4 linked regions of the Homo sapiens genome follow. The protein of the gene in region 2 purifies or fractionates together with the protein of the main gene of each other region. This does not show direct contact. Each region holds a gene or a part of one and is shown on either strand. Other genes may lie near its edges. The genes, in order: COA1, PHLPP1, FBXO22 and BUD23.

Evidence for each region.
Region 1: the proteins of PHLPP1 (region 2) and COA1 purify together in Homo sapiens (affinity purification with mass spectrometry, with the first as the bait; one large-scale study listed by BioGRID). This does not show direct contact.
Region 3: the proteins of PHLPP1 (region 2) and FBXO22 purify together in Homo sapiens (affinity purification with western blotting; one study listed by BioGRID). This does not show direct contact.
Region 4: the proteins of PHLPP1 (region 2) and BUD23 fractionate together in Homo sapiens (co-fractionation; one large-scale study listed by BioGRID). This does not show direct contact.

What each region holds. Positions count from the first base shown.
Region 1 is NC_000007.14:43,642,521-43,646,088, reverse strand, and holds part of COA1 (cytochrome c oxidase assembly factor 1 homolog), read left to right. Parts: intron 1-689; coding exon 690-838; exon of another isoform or gene 839-843; intron 844-3,568. UniProt on the Homo sapiens protein: Component of the MITRAC (mitochondrial translation regulation assembly intermediate of cytochrome c oxidase complex) complex, that regulates cytochrome c oxidase assembly.
Region 2 is NC_000018.10:62,977,495-62,980,955, reverse strand, and holds the end of PHLPP1 (PH domain leucine-rich repeat-containing protein phosphatase 1), read right to left. Parts: intron 2,695-3,461; coding exon 1,525-2,694; 3' UTR 523-1,524; downstream 1-522. UniProt on the Homo sapiens protein: Protein phosphatase involved in regulation of Akt and PKC signaling.
Region 3 is NC_000015.10:75,906,831-75,910,398, reverse strand, and holds part of FBXO22 (F-box only protein 22), read right to left. Parts: intron 1-3,568. UniProt on the Homo sapiens protein: Substrate-recognition component of the SCF (SKP1-CUL1-F-box protein)-type E3 ubiquitin ligase complex that is implicated in the control of various cellular processes such as cell cycle control, transcriptional regulation, DNA damage repair, and apoptosis.
Region 4 is NC_000007.14:73,690,075-73,693,642, reverse strand, and holds part of BUD23 (18S rRNA (guanine-N(7))-methyltransferase), read right to left. Parts: intron 2,728-3,568; coding exon 2,631-2,727; intron 1,048-2,630; coding exon 997-1,047; intron 315-996; coding exon 229-314; intron 20-228; coding exon 1-19.

The sequences.
Region 1 (3,568 bases), on a different chromosome or scaffold from region 2:
CTGCCTCTGCTCCCTCCTTTGGGCAGCTGATTATTAGAACTTACAGCTTCAGGGAGGTGCTTCCCGGAGTTCCCAGGTAGCCTGTGGGCTCAGAAGGATTCCTGAGACTGAGAGCAGTTTGAGTTGAAATGTTGGCTTAAATCTTGATGAATGAACATTTTCATATCCTGTTTCTAGGCCTGAGGGTTTTGTTGTTAATGTTGTGGTCTTTCTATTTTATGTCTCAACTTAGTGGAACAGGCAGTGTTGAGAAGTCAGGTATCATGGATTCTGGCCTCGGCTTTGCCATGGACCAGCTGTGTCACTTTGAACAAGTCATGGAATCATAGTAGGACTTTAGAGCAAACTTAGAGACTTGAGAGGAAACTTAGAGAAGAGCTGACCAAACCTCTTAGGTGTCAAAATAAGGCAATGAGTGAGGGTAGAAATGAGGTGAAGCAGAAAGGGTCTGCATGAGGTCAAGGCCCAAGGTCATCTGCACATCCCTGCAAAACACTGCCTGCCTGTGCTTTGGTTTTTGAGTCTGTAAAATGGACAATTTAGAGTAGATGGCCTTAATTATTCGTCCATCCACAGATTTCACGTTTCTGTTTCTACCCTGTACGTCAGTTGGATTATTTAATTTTCTGTGTAGTAGATTCTACCTGACCAAGTTCAATAAAGAAAATAAGTGTGTCTTTCGTCCTTAGAGTTTCATTCCAGGGCTTTATATTACAAGTTGGCAGTGGAGCAGCTGCAGAGCCATCCCGAGGCACAGGAAGCTCTGGGCCCTCCTCTCAACATCCATTATCTCAAGCTCATCGACAGGGAAAACTTCGTGGACATTGTTGATGCCAAGGTAATGTGCTTTCCCTGCGAACCGCAGGCTGGTGCCTGCTGAAGGAGAGGAGAGTCTACTGTCTCCTGGAAAGTCCTGGAGTTAAGGATTTGGGATGGGAAAATCCACTAAGTAAAGCTAGGTTTGGCACCTTTAAAAAAAGTTTTTCTATTATGGATTTTAATGTTTATATAAAATATATTTTATATTATAGATATTTCTGTATACTTTTCTTCCATTCTGGGGAATTGATGTGGCAGGGAATGCAGTGGGTATGCTGATGTCGCCATCTTGAATTGAAGGTAGTAGAGAAATGACCAGTGGTGGTTTGCTACCATGTTGGCTTTGATAGCTCTCAGCACTTTGGGAGGCTGAGGTAAGAGGATTGCTTGAGCCCTGGGGTTTGAAACCAGCCTGGGCAACACAGCAAGACCCTGTCTCTCTCTCTCTCTCTCTCTCTCTCTCTCTCTCTGTCTCTCTGCCTGCCTGCCTGCCTGCCTGCCTGCCTGCCTATCTATCTATCTATCTATCTATCTATCTATCTATCTATCTATCTATCTAATCTATCTATCTATAATTTAGCCAGGCGTGATAGTGCACACCTATAATCCCAGCTACCCAGGAGGCTGAAGCAGGAGGATCGCTTGAACCCAGGAGTTGGAGGCTGCAATGAGTTATGATCATGTCACTGCACTCCATCCTGGGTGACAGAGTGAAATTGTCTGTAAAATTAAAAAAAAAAGAGAAATGCATCTATATCCAGTCAGTGCTCATTCAAATGTACCCAACTCTTTAAACTTTGATTTTTAAAGTGTATTTATTTACATTGCTTCCACAGAATACCAACCCATTTTTTTAGCTATAACTTATCTTTTTGTACTTGATCACACTCACTTGCATGTAAAACACATTTGTTCTGTTTAACAAACATATTTTGAGTATATGCTCTGGTTTGAGAAATGATTCTAAGCTATGTGGGGAATAGAGGTGCAGAAGGCTTTTGGGGGTTTACAGTTGAAAATTCCTGAGTAAGACAGGGTGAGGGAAACCCTGTCACTATTGTGCAGGCCTAGGGGAAGTGGCTCGAGGCCTGGGAGATGGCTGTGAGGACTTTGAAAGGTGGAGAGGAACACCCGGCTGAGGAGCAGCATGCCTGGGAAAGTTCATCACTGTGTCGCCTGTCAGTGTGATACGGCAGTGGAGGCACAGGTGGGCGAGGTGGGTGTGGGCAGGTAGGAGGGGCTGCGGCCACCAGGGGCCACAGTGTCATCTTGGAAGGTGTGTGCTTGACTCTGGCAGCAGAAGCCCGTAAAGTATTTGGAGGATGAGTGAGGTGATCCGACCTACATTATTTTTTGTTATTTTTAGTATGTTCTTAATGGACCCAGCTCTAATGAGACTTTTTTCTAACTACAAAAGCAATTCATGCTCTGGTATTCTGATTAAAATATTCGGTTTTAAAAGAAGGTGGATTTGTGTAGATTGGTAATGCCCAGGGACTGGCTACGGGGAGCCATCTTTAGGAGAGAGATGTGGCCACACTGGTGTGCAGTGGTGAGAGCATGAACCAGAGGTGTGGCCTGGAGAAGCAAAAGACGGATGTGAAGCCATCGTGGCATCCAAGTGACAGAACTTGGTAACAGTCATGTATCAGGAGCGGGTGGGTCAGAGGTGATGGTCCAGTGTCCAGCATGGACGTGAGTGGAAGGACGGCAGCGACACTGCGTGAGAGAGGACATCCTGGAGGAGGAGCACAGGGAAGGGCTGGGCATGTGTGGAGTGCTCACTCTGTGCCAGGCCACCGGATTGCTCCCATGGTGTGGCGGAGCCTGTCTGTTGCTTCCTTGCCTTTGGTCACTTGGCTAGACCCCAGCAATCCTGAGAACTTGGAAAAGCCACTGGGTAGGTCTGGCTGTTGCGTTTCTCTCAGCACAGAGCCCAGCTGTAGCACTGAGGAATTGTGTGCCAAAGGCGCCTTTGCTGGGGCTGGTTGATGCAGCATCCATGATCTGGTGCTCCAGGAACCCCAGTGAGAGTAGGGTAAGGCCATGGTGGTTTTGGTGGGAGCTTTGTCCTGTCCAGCTTTCACTTTGGCCCCAGTGGTGCTGAGAGGGCGCCTTCCTGGGCTTCCCCACATCCCTGGGGCCTTGGCCATGCTGTGACTATGTTGGTTGTGGTGCTAGGTTCTGGCTTCTACTGCGGCCAAATGCTGTGACTCTGCAGTGACAGGAGTTCAGAGTCTGCTGCATCATGGCCACCTGGAGCCTCAGTGCACGCCTTCCAATTTGTGGACTATTTTTGACATTCTGTCAGGGTCCTTTCTTTATAATCAGCGGTTTGTGAGGATGCCTGTATACAGCATATGCCCTCTTATCCCAAATTCCTTTATTTGCAATTTTTACAGTTTTTCCAGAGGTGAGATGTTTCAGTTGTTCATGAAGTAATTGTCATACATTGGGATTTTTTCCCAAGTATGTGTGTGAGATAGTCACCAGTGACCAACACTTTGCTTTACCAGAACTCCTGCTTTAATCTTTGGCAAGGTCTGGCTGGTGAAGGAACCAACCTGTAAAGTGTCACATCTACCCATGGAAGCACAGCTGCCCACAGTTCAGACATTGGCCCCTCAGAGTTTGCTCTTCTTCAGAATCCTTCTTGCTTCTGCCCATTTCTTTCTCCTTCCTTTTTAAATTTTTTTTTAAAGCATCCAGAGATGCTCAGTGTATACTCTGTTGCTTAATTCTATAATTT
Region 2 (3,461 bases):
TGGCACAGTGGCTCACACCTGTAATCCTAGCACTTTGGGAGGCTGAGGTGGGCAGATCACTTGAGGTTAGGAGTATGAGACCAGCCTGGCCAACATGGTGAAACCCCATCTTTACTAAAAATACAAAAATTGGCTGGGCATGGTGGCGGGTGCCTGTAATGCCAGCTATTCAGAGGCTGAGGCAGGAGAATCACTTGAACCCGGGAGGCGGAGGTTGCAGTGGGCAGAGAACACACCACTGCACTCCAGCCTGGGAGACAGAGCGAGACTCCATTTCAAAAAAAAAAAAAAAAGAAAAGAAAAGAAAAGAAAAGCTGTAAGATCAGCTAATTATACTGCTTACCATTTGGTTAATTTCACATTTCATTCAATGTAGGTTAACTTACTGGATGTTTTTCTCTTAAAAAAAAAATCAGAAATATCTGATAACCCCAATATTCCATCCATTCTTTCTAAACGCAAGCTAGTGTGACTGTCTCCAAGAAACATCTGGCTGCTGAGACAAAAGCAGATACTTGTAAATACTTGTAAATTTCATATTTATTGTAACAAAAATTATGACATGTCCATTTGTGCATTCTGCTTGAGTATAACTCTGGGTATGTAAATGGCCTAATGGGGCACTATACAACCATGCTGATTGTGGCAGCAGTAAGGAACACAGTTAAAAGTGTCTGTCAAAGTGGGAAGGCTGGGACAGGGGAGGAAAATGGGTTCAGGGCCCTTGGGTGCAGGTTCTTGTCCAGTGGCCTAAGATCCATTTCCTCCGGACAGAAACACTGCAGCTGCTCAGCCTCCTCATTCAGTGAAGTGAGGGTGAGTTGTGAGGCAGGCAGGCTCCTCAGAGGGGAGGGGGAGGGGAAACGTCAGTTACTTGGGCTGTGTCCTTACGCCAAGACTACAAAACATCGTAAGCCTCACTATACAACACTGAGCTATTTACAATGGAAATTCTCAATCAGCTGTTCTCTCAGAGAAAATTAGTGAATCCCAGTGACTTAAGTCACCTGACAGAGTAAAGCAACTCCTAGGAGTTAGTCTCCATATTCTACAAATGTCTATTATTTTCAAGACAAAAACAAAACAAAACAAAACAAAACAAAACAAAAGCCTTTTCCCCCCAAAGAAATACAGAATTACAATATTATTAAATCATTTAGCAACGGCAGCCTGCCCTGCCTTCCAAACAAACAACAAAAAGCCATTTTAAAAAATATTACATTATCATTAACTGTTTCTCTGTAATATATTAAACCTTTTGTTCTTTGTCTTTACATATCTGATATGTTAGGGGGAGAAGTTAACAAATGTAAATCATATTGGTAAAGCATCACTAGAAGAAAGTGGTGATTACTTAAAAAAATAACCCAAAGAAAGAGAACCTACAGATTAGCTGCGATGACAGGTTGGGAACAGTGTCTGGGGGAAGGATGTGGAGTAAAACCCCTGGTTTAATGTGAGCCTGGGAGACTCTTGCAACTCAGTCTTTTGTGGTTAGTTTATTTGTTAAACAGCTCGGCTGGGTCATAGTGGCGTGTCGTAATAATCTGGCAGCTGGTCCAGCTGGTAGTGCCGCGGCAGCTGCGGCTGGAGCTGAGGGGGTGGTGGCGGCTGCTGCTGCTGCTGTTGCTCCTGGTGATGCTTCATGATTTCTTTGACCTCCTCTTCCAGCTCCGGGGGTATGATAAACTGATCATCAGGATCCGGCTGAGCCGGGGCAGCAAAATAGCCTCCAGGCTTTCGAAGAGGTGCGTCTGTAGCCACCTCTATCACATTGTGGCTCCTTTCCTGGGGCGCAACAGAGCCATTGGCCCTCCGGCGCCCAATGGTCCCAACGGCAGAGAAGTCTGCCTTCCTGGGCAGACCTGGCTCATCCTCGTTGGCGCTGATGACAATGCCCTCATCACTGGCCTCTGCTGGCACCTGAAGCAGGTGCTGCTGTTTCTCCTTCTCCTTGGCCCGGCTGCAGTGGATGTCCACCTCCACCTCCACCCGGCTGCCGTTGGTGAAGACGCCCTCGATGGGCTCCTCATCGTCACTGTCAAGGCCGTTGTCGGAGAAGGCGCTAGAGAACGTGGCGCTGGATAGCTGGCGCTGGAAGGAGTTGGACAGACAGATGGGGTGGAGCATGCAGCGCTGCTCACTGGGGTAGGCAGGGCTGTTCTCGCTTAGGGCTCCGGGCGGGGGCTCATCGGAGGCTGTTGACCCCACCTCGCTGCTCATCTCAGAAGTGGAGAGCTCACTGCTAATCTCGGAAGCCATGCCGCTGCTGGAGGACGGCACGCCCAGCCCATCTGAGGGCCGATCCTTGATCACCATGTTCACTGAGGGAGGAAAGATGCCAGGACTGGGTGGTGGCACAGCCCCACCGGCGCTGAGCTCGCAGCAGCAGAAGCTGTCCTCAGTGACACTGAGCTGCACCACCACAGCGCTGATGCTGTCGTGGCAGCCGTAGCTCTGGGCCAGGGTACACAGCTTCTTGGCAGCAGCCAGGGCATCGGGCACGTTGCGCACGGCTTCCACGGCCTCCTCGACGGACAGGCTGTCCCACAACCCCTTACTGCCTAGGATGAAGAACTCATCCTGGGGAGTCAGGAGCACGGACTGCACGTGGGGGCGAGGCACCACACTGGGATGGAGGAAGGTGTAGCCCAGGATGCGCGTGGACTCAGTCACTCCGTTCACCTTGCCATCCTGGAAGAACAAGGGTTTGCAGACAGACAGTTAATACAGAGCACCTGCGGCAACTGTGCAGGTTCCCTGCGGGTCCCTCGACTGTCTCGACTGTAGGACCACAGAGAAGTGCTGTGTGGCCCACAGAGGAAAGAAGGGCTCACTCTGTAGTGAGTAGTTAATGTGCACCTGTCATCAGAAACCCCAGGTAGTAGGCCTGGGCAGGTAAGGAGCAGTAGGGACAAAAGGAAAAGATTTCGGTTATGTGTGTTACTGGGACCCCATTCACACTAGGTCACAAGTCCTGCTGTTTATCTAAAGCAAGCCATCATCTAGCCTTACACAGCAAGCATAGCTGGCTAGCTCCTCCTGTAAACATGGGTTTACATCTTCCCTCCCTTGGTGAACATGGTGATCAAGGATCGGCCCTCAGACGGGCTGGGTGTAGGAAGACTCTGAGGTAGCAAGAGACTTTCTGATAGAAGCCAGTCCTGAGCAAAGACACATGACGCAGGCATATATCAAGACAATGCTCCTAAATCTTCCATTGCTCTCCATGATCACAAGAGGCAGTAGTGTCTAAAGGTCCAGAGAGGACTTGAAAGTACTTAAGCGGTGGAGAAAACCTTGGTTTGACTAGGTGGGTAAGAATGCTCATGTCAGGAGAACAGATGCTAAAGAAGAAATGCCAATTCTTACAACTTCCTTGAACTTGATTTCCTGTTGACCAATGGAGAAGGCAAGATCTGCTGGCTTTAGTTCAGCTGTGTGCATGCTATTTAAATCAA
Region 3 (3,568 bases), on a different chromosome or scaffold from region 2:
ACACTTTCACACTGTTTGTAGGAGTGCAAATTAGTTCAACCATTGTGGAAGACAGTGTGGTGATTCCTCAAGGATCTAGAAAGAGAAATACCATTTGGCCCAGCAATCCCATTACTGGGTATATACCCAAAGGATTATAAATCATTCTACTATAAAGACACATGCATATGCATGTTTACTGCAGCACTATTCACAATAGCAAAGACTTGAAACCAACTCAAATGCCCATCAGTGATAGACTGGATGAAGAAAATGTGGCACAGATACACCATGGAACACTATGCAGCCATAGAAAAAGGATGCACTCATGTCCTTTGCAGGGACATGGATGAAGCTGGAAACCATCATTTTCAGCAAACTAACACAGGAACAGAAAACCAAATGCTGCATGTTCTCATTCATAAGTGGGAGTTGAACAATGAAAACACATGGACACAGGGAAGGGAACATCACACACCAGGGCCTGTCAGGGAGTGGGAGATTAGGGAAGGGATAGCATTAGGAGAAATACCTAATGTAGATGACGGGTTGATGGGTGCAGCAAACCACCATGGCACGTGTATACCTATGTAACAAACCTGCATGTTCTGCACATGTATCGCAGAAATTTAAAAAAAAAAAAAAGTATCACCCCATCCAAACTGCTGGTACCCTACCTTCTTTCAGGTCAATGTTGGCATTCTGAGTCAATCTACTTCTCATTTACTTTTCACTCATGCTCTTTCATTTTCAGTTCATTTACTAAACACCTATAATTTCTTCATTCCAGCCCTCAAAAAGTTCATTTTCATAATGATAACTGAAGCTCTTAGAACAAAAACATCAAGTACCAGCAAAAGATGCACTTGCTTTATTTGAACAGGCATCACAGTATCAGAAAAATCTCAGCACTGGGGAAGGTATACAGGCTGTATCACTCCCTTTTCACTGCTTATCAAATCAAATACTCCAAGCCTCCATTTCCAGGCTTGCCAGCAAGGCTTCCTTCAGGGCCCCTTAGCTTACTATTAATATTATCCAGACACACCGACTTCCCCATATGTTCTATTGCTCTGTTCTTGTGGAACTTAAGACTGTTTCCCTCTAGAGACACCTTAAGTGCCACCTCCTCTCCAAAACCTTTTCCTAAACTCCCTCAGTACTCTGGACCTCAGATGCAACATCCCTTACCCCTAGTTAATCTTATTTGTCCCCTATCTCCCCTATGAGCTGGGCTTATTCAGACTCACCTGTTTTCAACTAAACTTTCCAATTGAAGACAAGCGGCAAAGCAGCTGAATTAAATGAAAAGGATGATATATTTTTCCAAGCTAGCTATTTTCAAATATTTTTTACTACCAGAATAAAATGAAGTACTTAGGATATAGCAAAGCCTCATTGTTAGTTAAATGGAAAAAAAAAGTTGGTCCATTATAATTTGAGGGAATGCCAAGATGTTTCAGAATACATTCTACATAGATAAACTAATAAAAGAGACAGATAGCATGATGGCCTGTGGGGCCCAGGGCTGCCCAAGACCTACGGATATAGTTTCCTTGGTCCACACAGCATTTTCAGAAAATGTAAACTGAATGCCAATGTTCAAAATTCCACCGAATTTTTACATAAAATGTGGATTTCCAGATTCTTTTTAAAAACTGGACATTTTGGCAACACTTAGACTACGTGCCTCTTAACTAAGGCTAAACGGAGGCAAGCCTTTCCAGACTGCCATGGTGCTACGACTATTGAGCTACCTGACCCTCTTCAGCTACCTGCCTGACCTTCGAGTCATCTGAATCTGTGATGCCTGGTATAGTGAGTAAAGGAGACAGAAAAAGAGATTTACGGGCAAGGCACAGTGGCTCACGCCTGTAATATCAGCACTTTGGGAGGCCACGGTGGGTGGATTGCCTGAGGCCAGGGTGAGACCAGCCTGTCCAACATGGTGAAACCCCATCTCTACTAAAAATACAAAAAGTAACCGGGTATGGCTGCATGCGCCTGTAGTCCCAACTACTCAGGAGGCTGAGGCAGGACAATCACTTGAACTAGGAAGGTGGAGGTTGCACTGAGCCAAGATCGGGCCACTGCAATCCAGCCTGGGCGACAGGCGAGACTCTGTCTCAAAAAAAAAAAAAACCAAACAAAACAAAAAACAGATTTAGGTCTTAGTGGCAACTCTGCCACAAACCAGCAGAATAACCCTCAGCAAGCTTTTAGGCCTCAGGTTTCTTACTCCTGAACAAGTATTAAAAGTCTGGTCCTGAGAGTTTATGAGGCATCCACTGAAAAGCAACTGCTGAATTTTCCTTCCTAATTCACACTAGAAGTAGTGACATAACAAGCCTCAATATGAAATGTTCTCAAAGCACAGTTAAGACAGCTGACACCACATTCCACTGTTCAAAGAAGTTACAAATGGCAAGCTGTTTTATAAAGCTTTTGGTGGACTTTAAAAAAATTTTTTTTTTTTGAGACACAGTCTCACTCTTTATCACCCAGGCTGGAGTGAAGTGGTGCAATCTCAGCTCAAGCAAACTCCATCTCCCTGGTTCAAGCGATTCTGGTACCTCAGCTACCCAAGTAGCTGCGATTATAGGTTTGCACTAACATGCCCAGCCAACTTTTGTACTTTAATATTTTTATTTATATATTTGATATTTTTAAATATTTATATTTTTTTAGTGGAGACGGGGTTTCACCATGTTGGCCAGGCTGTTCTCTAACTCCTGACCTCAAGTGATTTGCCTGCCTCGGCTTTCCAAAGTGCTGGGATTATAGGCATGAGCCACCATGCCTGGCGGACTTTAAAATATTTCTAATAGAAAAGTTAAATCAACTTTCTTTATGGCTATAAAAGTACCCATGTCCACTAGATAACTTGGAAAACACAAATAAACAGCACGTATGATTTGGATAGAGTTTTCATGTTTTTGTCTCACCAGCAGTTTACTACAATGGAGGAACTCCTCTAAGGGCATTACTATAACTATGTGAACTTTAATAATGATACTAATAAAAGAATATTTAATAGACATCTATTGAGAACTTATGCTCCTGGTATTGTAAGTAATGTTTATATGCATTACCTTTTCATTATTTAATCCTCACAACAACTCTATAAGGGCATAGGAAAATTATTATTTTTCTTTTTATTTTATGGAGATAGCACCTGAGGCTCAGAGAGGTTGAGTAGCTTTTTCAAAGTCACACCGCTGGTATATGCCAAAGCTATGGTTCACAACTAAGTCTGTCTGGCTATTAACAGCCACTACAATGTATAAACTCTTAAAGCTATAGAAAAATCATGCCTGCTGTGGTAAAAATTTGAAAACTTTTTAAAAACCATAGAAAACTTTTTAAAAACAGTAAATGGAAAAAAAAGCTAACATTTTGGCTTTCTTTTCTACTCTCCCTTTTTTGTCTTTAATAATTCAGATGATACTAAATATATAATTTCATAATCTGTTTTCACTTTTAAAATCAACATTTTCTCTTGTCATTAATGCATTTGCAGTCTATAATTTAATAGCTTTATTTATTAGATTAACATTAGGTTTTTAGTATCCCTTATTATAAACGATGC
Region 4 (3,568 bases), on a different chromosome or scaffold from region 2:
AAACAAGCAGAGGTAGAATCTGAAAGGAGAAAGTGCAAAGTGAGGGTTGGGTGGAGAAAGCCCCACAGGGAGACAAGCCCTCAGCTCCCCCACCCGCACCCCCTCCGCCTGCCTGGACCCTGGTGACCCACACCCCAGCACTCCTCTGCACCACTGAGTGGCCTGAAAGGGCTATGCCACTACCCTCCCTCCTGCAGCCCAGGCAGCACACCGGCCCCCAGCGCTCACTTCTTTGCTTTGGCACTGTTAGGGTAGTCTACCACCATGCCACCGGAGAAGCCTGCCTTTGTGGCCTGGGTTGTGATCAGCTCCAACTGAGGAAAGAAAGGCAGCGGGTCAGGCAGCGGAGGTTGAGAGGAGCAGACAGCTTCACCTCCCTCCCCTCCTTCAGAAGCCAGTCTGCTCCAGGACAAATCCTGCCTGGGAGAACTTAAGGTCGCTGTAAGCCACGTAGAGAAAAGTACAGGCTAGAATCTGGCATGGCCCACACCTCCCTCAGGAGAATTACAGAACAAAGCAACTCCCCTCATTCTCACTTTCCAGTGCAGGGACCCAGCTCCCCACTCAAGTTTAGGGAGATGGCCACCAATTGGAATCCAGAGTCATTCATGTTATTAGTCAGGAACAGCTCTTCACTTATCTTTCAACATCTACATCCTACTCCGCCATTCCTTAATTTATACATCACACAACGGAGAACTGTCGGTGCCCTCTCACCCTTCCTAAATGGCATTTACTTATTTGGTTATGGAAATCAGTCGCATCACCTTATCTGTAATACCATGTCATCTGCCAAGAGAAGGCATCCCACCCCACCTCCGCAGATGCCACCCCCTTAGGATATCAGGTCATCAAATGTGCCATCAGGGGCCACACTAGGGTGCATGTTTCCTCCTTTTCCCGCCAATCTGCATAAGATTCTTTGTCGCTTCCCCAGGACAGCTTACCTGTTGAGTCCCCCAACTCCCCGGCACACCCAGTAGCCGAGGGACTCACCTGCTCTGAGTTCTCAGGGTACAGCTGCAGGACAGCTCGGGATCCCCGGACCTGAAAGAAACAGGAACATCACTGTCTTACAAATGACTGCATGAGCTTAGGGCCTGGACACCCCTCTCTTCCTTCATTCACCAAGTATTTCCTGAATTTCCATTATGTGTGAGGCATTGTTAGGGCTGGGGATAGTATGAACAAAAGAGATCACCCTGAACTTTGGAGCTCACATTTTAGTAAAGGAGGCAACTAATTCACAGTAGCAAATTTTTTCTTTGTTACAAAAAGAGGAATTAGACAAAGTGACAGAGTTTCCTTTCAGTTCAGTTTACTTTTGGTTCCAAAAAGGCCTGTTTCAAATGGATACTTGAGCAGAGATTTGAATGGAGTGAGGAGCTGGCTATTTAAACATATAAGGGAGGAGCCTTCCAGCAGGGAGAAGAGGAAACACAAAGGACCTCAGAACTAAAATATTAACCCAGTGTGCCAGGAGGAGAACTCATGTGACACACAAGACCAGCGGCCAGATAGGCAGGCGCAGTCCACCCCAGGAAAGGCCAGCGGCCACATCAGCAGGGGCAGTTCACCCCAGGAAAGACCAGCGGCCACATCAGCAGGGGCAGTTCACCCCAAGAAAGACCAGTGGCCAGATCGGCAGGTGCAGTCCACCCCAGGAAAACTAGGGGTGGGCTAGACCAGGCTAAGGAGGCAAAAACCACTCAGATCCTTCAAAACGGACTCATTTTTAAGCTGGGCACAGTGGCTTACGCCTATAATCCCATCACTTTGGGAGCCTGATGCCAGACAATTGCTTGAAGCCAGGAGTTTAACACCAGCCTGGGCAACATAGGTAGACCCCATCTCTTAAAAAAAAAAAAGTAAAAAATTAGCCTGGCATGGTGGTGTGTGCCTGTAGTCCAAACTACTTGAGAAGCTGAAGCAGGAGGATCACTTGAGCCCAGGAGTTCGAGGGCGCAGTGAGCTACGATCACACCATTGCACTCCATCCCAGGCAACAAAGCAAAAGTCTGTCTCAAAAAACAAAATTTAAAAAGAACTCATTTTTAGGACTTAAAATCTCAGACTATCAGCTAATCCTAGTGAACAACTGAAATTAACATCATTAATTTGAAGACAAAGCTAATAAAGGCTCTCTTTGCAGTAAATAACTATCCTGTTCCTCATCCGAAGAAAAGGATCAGCACTAGGAGGAGGGATAAGTGAGGAGTCAGAAGGATGTGGGCACTTTGGAAGGTACCCCTCTGGATGGTCCGGACACGACATCTCTGTCCTCACTCTGCTCAGTCCATGCCCCCAAACCAACTTCTGATTAAAACTCAGCGCAATAGACATAGGAATACCAATCAACAGAAGTAGGCCCTATTACAAGTTAATAAATTGGTCTCCGATTTTGGTATCAGTGACTTCTGGGTTTGATTAGAGTATATCAGTCCACTGAGCTTGAACTTCCATTTAGGCTGAGGACCTGGACAGAAGTAACCACAGTAAGGTCCTGCCACCCCATGCGGTCCCATATGAGTAGCTTACCCATCATGGGACACCTCAATTTCCTCACTCTACCTGCAGTGCTAGGGAGGGACAGGCAGCTAACCCAGATGGGGAGAAGATCTTATACTCACGAGAACAGAAAAAAGAGAAGCAAAAAAGCAGTACAGGCGCTTGGCAGGGTTTTCAGACTTCTTGTTAGCATTACAGAGCCACTGCACAGCAGAAATGCTAAAAAGGAAGGGACCTAGTCAGGCAACGGAGCAATCCACGTTGCTCCCCCAACCACTTCAAGCCTCTTGACATCATCCGTCCTGGCTCTCCAAGAGAAACCCCTCCTCCCACAGCTTCCCTTCTTAGAAAGTGCAGGTTGAGGCCACGTACAGTGGTTCAACGCCCTGTAATCCCAGCACTTTCTGAGGCCAAGACAGAATTGCCTGAGGCCAGGACTTCAAACCAGCCTGGACAACATAGCAAGACCCCATCTTTACTTAAAGTATTTTTAAATTTAAAAATTTAAAGACAAAAAAAGTGCAGGTCCACTGCAGGTCATGACTCTACAACACTGGAAAAATAGGACATACAGAAGGACAGCATTTATGTCCCATAGTCCCAAGAAACCTTTCCTCCACCTTGTTTCCATCTGCATCTTGAGTTGAAAAGTCCTCCGTGTCAAGGCTGTCTGCCCACACACCCCTCCTTGTTCCCTTCCTCCAATCCAAGGAAACAGGCTTTAGACTACTCACATACACACAGCCATCCCATCACCCTTCCTCCTAAATCACTCCCTTCCACTCTACCTGTTAAGTGTCTTTACAACCCCCAGATTTAAAACCTCAAGCAGCCAGGTGCATTGGCTCATACCCGTAATCCCAGCATTTTGGGAGGCTGAGATGGGTGGATCACTTGAGGTCAGGAGTTCGAGACCAGCCTGACCAACACGGTGAAACCCCGTCTCTACTAAAAATACAAAAATTAGCTGGGCTTGGTGGCATGTGCCTTGAATACCAGCTGCTCAGGTGGCTGAGGCAGAAGAATCACTTGAACCTGGGAGGCAGAGGTTGCAGTAAGC